Linked DNA regions of Homo sapiens: region 1 is linked to region 2. Evidence: fine-mapped expression QTL. A gene starts in region 2. The other region holds a variant in brackets. All regions are shown on one strand. Distances are from middle to middle.

Region 1 (2,913 bases), 58 kb after region 2:
CACATTTGAAACTATGATTGCTTTGTGTTCAGTCCTTTTGGAACACGTAGCTTCCAGCTTAAGGGTAGAGAAATATATACCTAAAATCATCAATACATGAAAGAAAAAGGATGGAAACTATGTCCTCAGTTTTACTTCTACCAAAACATCCCTGTATGTGTGTGCATGTATGTTGGCGTGTGTGTGTGTGCATGCATATTAGTAAATGTGTGTTTGCATGTGTGTGTTGGGGAGTGTATGTGATCTGGGTGTTTGTTTATCTCTGTTATTATTCCCCTTTAGCTTTATTTTAGTCAACTCTACATTATGATGAATTTCAAAATGAAGCTGTATTAAAATAATTGTAATATAACAATTCAATCTCACATGTTACTGCAGATAGTTAACTTTTGCTGCAATCTATTGTACATTTGCAATTTTCTGTGTTAGTAAACTTAGCAGAATCTGGTTATTTATTTTTGTGTAGGCTTAATGTTCACTGAAAGATAAGTCAATTACTGTTAGTAAAAAATTAAGGTACTCTCACTGCAGAGATTTAAGGCCTGGGCCTAATGTGCTGTATTATGAAGCCTTGTGACTGAAAAATATGTTTACATATGTTGTCTATTTTTTTAATAAACTTTTATAGCTGGTCTATTTGCTCAGTAGCTTTGATCCTCTCTTGATTATTGTGACTATAGTTTGCAATGGTTTATTTTGTATTCAATAAGAAAAATTGTGTTAATAAAGATTATTGTTTAATAAGCCAGGTATTAACCTGCTAAATATATTAAACTGAAAATCACTAAATGAGTCATTCAATTAAATACATCAAAAAAGGTAGAATGAAATGTTTTATTTCAAATTTTTTTGGTTTACATATGCATTGAAAAGTTATATTTCATGGTGAGCGTTTTGCAAGTCCAGCTTTTCAGAAGACACACTTTTGCAGAGTGAAATGAGTATGAGAAAAAAATCTCAGTGATTAAGGAGACATGTTGATTTTATTGTTTAATTTTATGTTTAAATCAGAGGAATTTCAAACACCACTTAACATGTAGAAATTCTTACTAAGTGATAAAAGCTTGAGTGAATGAGGAAAGCAGATCGCAGGACTTCATGGAGATCATAGCATTACCCCACCACATGGGAGGGAGCAAAACGTAATGTGCATTGAATATCTGTTAAGTATGGGGAACCCTCCTAGGTGCCTATAGAAGACAACTCCTGTAATTCTCTTTAATAAAAATTGTGAGAGAAAGCCAGGCATGGTGGCTCACGCCTGTAATCCCAGCACTTTGGGAACCTGAGGTGGGCGGATCAAGAGGTCAAGAGATCGAGACCATCCTGGCCAACATGGTGAAACCCCTTCTTTACTAAAAATACAAAAAATTAGTCTGGCATGATGGTGCCCGCCTGTAATCCAAGTTACTCAGGAGGCTGAGGCAGAAGAATTGCTTGAATCTGGGAGGCAGAGGTTGCAGTCAGCCGGGATCGCACCATTGCACTCCAGCCTGGTGACAGAGTGAGACTTAATCTCAAAAAAAAAAAAAAAAAAAA[AC/A]AAACTGTGAGATAAGTAATACTACTCCTATCGCATTAGATATGAAACAGACACAGAAAGGTTTGGTAAATTTCCAAAGACCCAGTCTGAGTCAAGTGATCACCATCTACCTGTTCACACCTGTGGTTAATAGTTGTAAGCATGGTGTAGAAGATGAGGACATCTTGCAAATGAGCTTTGTAAATGTTATCTAAAGCTAAGGTAGTTTCTCTCTCATCAAAAAGTCAAAAGTCTAAAAATGTATGAGTACCATTGAAGTTAAATAAGATATAGAGATAAATATTGAAATTTGAAACATTTTATTTAGGAAGCAAGAATTGCAATTCAGGACATACACAGAGACCAGGTGATCTTCAGTATGTCCAAAGAACAAAGAGACAGGAGTTTTATTAAAGAATTGTTACATATTGTTTTGAAAGAAAGCTCATTGGCACTAGAGAAGCTTTTGGACTCTGGCAAGCTCTGGTTGGTGAGTCATGGCAGGAATTAAAACAAGTCTTAGAGTCACAAATTGTTGCTTCAGCAGCTACCAGGTAAAACTGGCCCTGGGGTGACAGCAGGCCATTTCAGCAGCTGGGCTTGGAGAAAATACATTCGTGGAGTAGGTGCTATGTCCCCCACGTATGTTTTCCTCTCTGGCCCCTCAGTTCTGATTTAACTGAGTATGTATGACAAGAATTGCCCAATTTGTATTATTAACTTTCACAGTACTTATTTAAAAATAAAACACTATTAGCTAATAACACTTAATACAATGGAAAATGCAATAGAAAGGAGTAAAATATGCATATCTGATAGATCAACTCAGAGAAATGAGGTATTCTGTTCAATAGGTTCATAAATGCCATGGTCTGAATATGTCCCTCAAAATTCCTATGTTGAAATCGTAACCATCAAAGTTTTGGAATTAAGAGGTGGGAGGTAATTAGATCATGAATTCTCATGAATGGGGTTAATGCTGTTTTAAAAGAGGCCTGAAGGAAGCTGTTATCCCTTTACACCATGTGAGGACACAGTGAGAAACTGCTATATATACACTAGGAAACAGGCCCACAGCAGACACAGAGTCTGCCAGCACCATCATCTTGGACTTCCCAGCCTCCAGAACTGTGAGCAACAAATGTGTGTTGTTTAGAAGCCACCTACTTTATGTTATTTTGTTATAACAGCCCAGATGGACTAAGACAATAAATATGGTGAAATTATGTAAGAACTGCAATATACACATAAAATAATTTAATTGGGCTTAAGCTGTCTCTATTCTTTACTTCTGCAAAGATCAACATGCTGAAACATAGTGAAAGATGAAGTATTTGTGAATGAAACAATGTAATCGGTACCAGAGAGTGGAACAAAAACTAGCTATTGTTTGT
Region 2 (2,913 bases):
GTAAAACTATTAACTCATTTAGTCTTCCTAAAAACCCTATAAAGTAGGTACTATTTATTATATTCCCATTTTATAGATGAGAAAACTGAGTCATAGAGAAATAAAGAAACTTGCTCAAGGTCACACAGCCAATAAATAGTTTGATCTGAGAGACAAAGAAAACTGAAAAGACAATAAATTTATCTTTATGTAACTCAGAATGTTACTGTATGTCCTATCCTCATAATATCTAAAATTGTCCCTTCTGTTATTGGAAGTACAGGATCCACACGTTAGGAAATTCTGGCCTACTACAGGATAATCTAATATTTTAGAATTTTAATAACTAAGCTCTTCTATCTTTTTAGCCTCATCACCTGCCACAGTAACCTACCAACGTCTGGCACCCAGCCATTGCCAATGCTTCCTAAACCCAAACCTGTGGGTTTCCAGGGAGACTGGGGCATTTTCCATCTGAGTAGACAGTAAAAATAAGCAAAGGATTTACCATCATGGAGCTTCTGGGACTATACCGACCACGGGTCACTCTGCGCTGCGATCTGTAACCTAGTCAGTTCTGAGATGCACGGTGGCTCAAACGCACTTAGCATGGTGACTTGCCACTCGCACTGGCCCAGGTCTGGCACCGCGCTACAATTTCTTCTGTAGCCCGTTCTGAGATTCTGTCACTCTCCCTGAACTGCAACTCTCTCTCTCCCCGCCACACCCTAAAGCCCCACATCTTCTCAACCCTCTCCCACCGCTTCTTGGAGAAGCGTCCCCTCCCTCAGTCTTACCTTTGGCTTAATTTAAACTCTCCCGAAAATTTATAGCGGATGACGGCCGATCCCGCCTCCCAGACCATGTGGGCGCGGCTCACCATTGCTCCGGAGCACCTGCGGCGGGGGCGGGGTGGGACCAGCCAGGCGGGCCCAGGGGGCGGGCCCGGCCCAAGGTGGTGGGGGACGGGCCCGGGCGCCAGGGGCGGGACGAGGCTCTGGGGACTGGCACAGAAAAGGGAAGTGAACCTGGCGAGGGCGGGGCGGGATGGTGCAGTTGGTGGGGAAGGGTGGGGCGAACCTAGGAAGGCGGTCCCATAGGGCGGGCGCAGACTGGGCGCCCGGGACGGGTCAAGGAGGGCGGAATGAACCTGGAGAGGGCGGGGCGGCTGGGGGAGGGGCGGGAAGGCCCTGGGGACTGGCCTAGGGGCGGGCCCGGGGGGGTGGGGGGGCGGTGCGGAATGGAGCCGGAGGGGGCGGGGCGGCCCTGGCGCGGCTAGGGTGGGGTGGGGCGTCCCAGGCTCTGGCTAAGGAGCGCGCGGCGGGCGGGCCGGCCGCAGGGCCTGGGCACGACCATGGTGGGACGTCGCCCGCGGCTTCGGGGACCGCTGCGGCAGCAGAGGCGGCTGGCCAGGAACGCGGGCCGAGGCTGGACCCTTTGGGCAGCTAGCCCGTGATCTCTGCCGTCACCGATCGCGATTCCTACCCCCTCGCCTTCCCCCGGCGCCGACGGCCACACCGCCGGACGATGCGCGCCCGCGGCCGCCCGGGAGGCTGAGCCCAGCTTCCCGCTCCGCCTTCCCCGCGCAGCTGCCCCCATGGCTTTGCGGGGCGCCGCGGGAGCGACCGACACCCCGGTGTCCTCGGCCGGGGGAGCCCCCGGCGGCTCAGCGTCCTCGTCGTCCACCTCCTCGGGCGGCTCGGCCTCGGCGGGCGCGGGGCTGTGGGCCGCGCTCTATGACTACGAGGCTCGCGGCGAGGACGAGCTGAGCCTGCGGCGCGGCCAGCTGGTGGAGGTGCTGTCGCAGGACGCCGCCGTGTCGGGCGACGAGGGCTGGTGGGCAGGCCAGGTGCAGCGGCGCCTCGGCATCTTCCCCGCCAACTACGTGGCTCCCTGCCGCCCGGCCGCCAGCCCCGCGCCGCCGCCCTCGCGGCCCAGCTCCCCGGTACACGTCGCCTTCGAGCGGCTGGAGCTGAAGGAGCTCATCGGCGCTGGGGGCTTCGGGCAGGTGTACCGCGCCACCTGGCAGGGCCAGGAGGTGGCCGTGAAGGCGGCGCGCCAGGACCCGGAGCAGGACGCGGCGGCGGCTGCCGAGAGCGTGCGGCGCGAGGCTCGGCTCTTCGCCATGCTGCGGCACCCCAACATCATCGAGCTGCGCGGCGTGTGCCTGCAGCAGCCGCACCTCTGCCTGGTGCTGGAGTTCGCCCGCGGCGGAGCGCTCAACCGAGCGCTGGCCGCTGCCAACGCCGCCCCGGACCCGCGCGCGCCCGGCCCCCGCCGCGCGCGCCGCATCCCTCCGCACGTGCTGGTCAACTGGGCCGTGCAGATAGCGCGGGGCATGCTCTACCTGCATGAGGAGGCCTTCGTGCCCATCCTGCACCGGGACCTCAAGTCCAGCAACAGTAAGTGGGGCCAGAGGGAGGTGGGGGAAGACTACCTCCGTGCCAGCCCAGGCGGGCTCCACAGGACATAGTACCAGATGGAAAGAGGTGGGAGTCAGCCTTAGGGCGCCAGCAGCAACTCATGCCCAGGCCTTCAGGGCTCGGAAGTCCAGCTAGTCCTTGGTTACTTGCTTTGGGGCTGGTGACACGCTTAACCTTGACTTGCCTTTGGGTGCTTTTTAAAAAAGTTCAGACCAGACTTGCTTGTAGAGGAAACATTTGTAAAATACCTGGATCTCCTAGAAACCTCAGGGGGCAGTCTGGCCTTTCAATACCAGAGGTGATTCATCTGGGTAGGACTTTGCAAACCGAGGCCTTCTGCAGATTATATGGAACCCATGACCGTCTTCACCCGGTGGCCTTCATCAAAGTCCCCGAATGCACTCGGGGACGTCAACTTTACAAGTGCTGTATTGAGGTTGCTGTTTGCCTATTCAAAATATGACTTCATGTCTCTTACCTTTTCCAAAGACTGTTTTCATTCAAATGTCTC

Alleles and levels. Positions count from the first base shown, and alleles are read on the strand shown. Sizes are in standard deviations (SD) of each study's normalised expression.
For the expression in prefrontal cortex of the gene that starts at base 1,272 in region 2, A is the high allele of the variant in region 1 and AC is the other (moderate effect, 0.62 SD a copy in BrainSeq).

The links.
Region 1: its variant is fine-mapped to the expression of MAP3K21 in prefrontal cortex (BrainSeq, PIP 0.95).

What each region holds. Positions count from the first base shown.
Region 1 is chr1:233,384,502-233,387,414 of GRCh38, forward strand. MAP3K21 (mitogen-activated protein kinase kinase kinase 21) reads left to right here. Exons shown (of 10, transcript NM_032435.3): 10 at 1-647. Among named protein-coding and RNA genes, the nearest start is that of MAP3K21, 58 kb to the left of the region's middle. The variant AC/A (reference allele first, on the strand shown) is at 1,540.
Region 2 is chr1:233,326,453-233,329,365 of GRCh38, forward strand. MAP3K21 (mitogen-activated protein kinase kinase kinase 21) reads left to right here and starts at 1,272. Exons shown (of 10, transcript NM_032435.3): 1 at 1,272-2,381. The coding sequence starts at 1,577. It also overlaps a transcript of PCNX2 not described here. RefSeq lists silencers at 786-1,085, 1,276-1,575, 1,375-1,526, 1,716-1,915.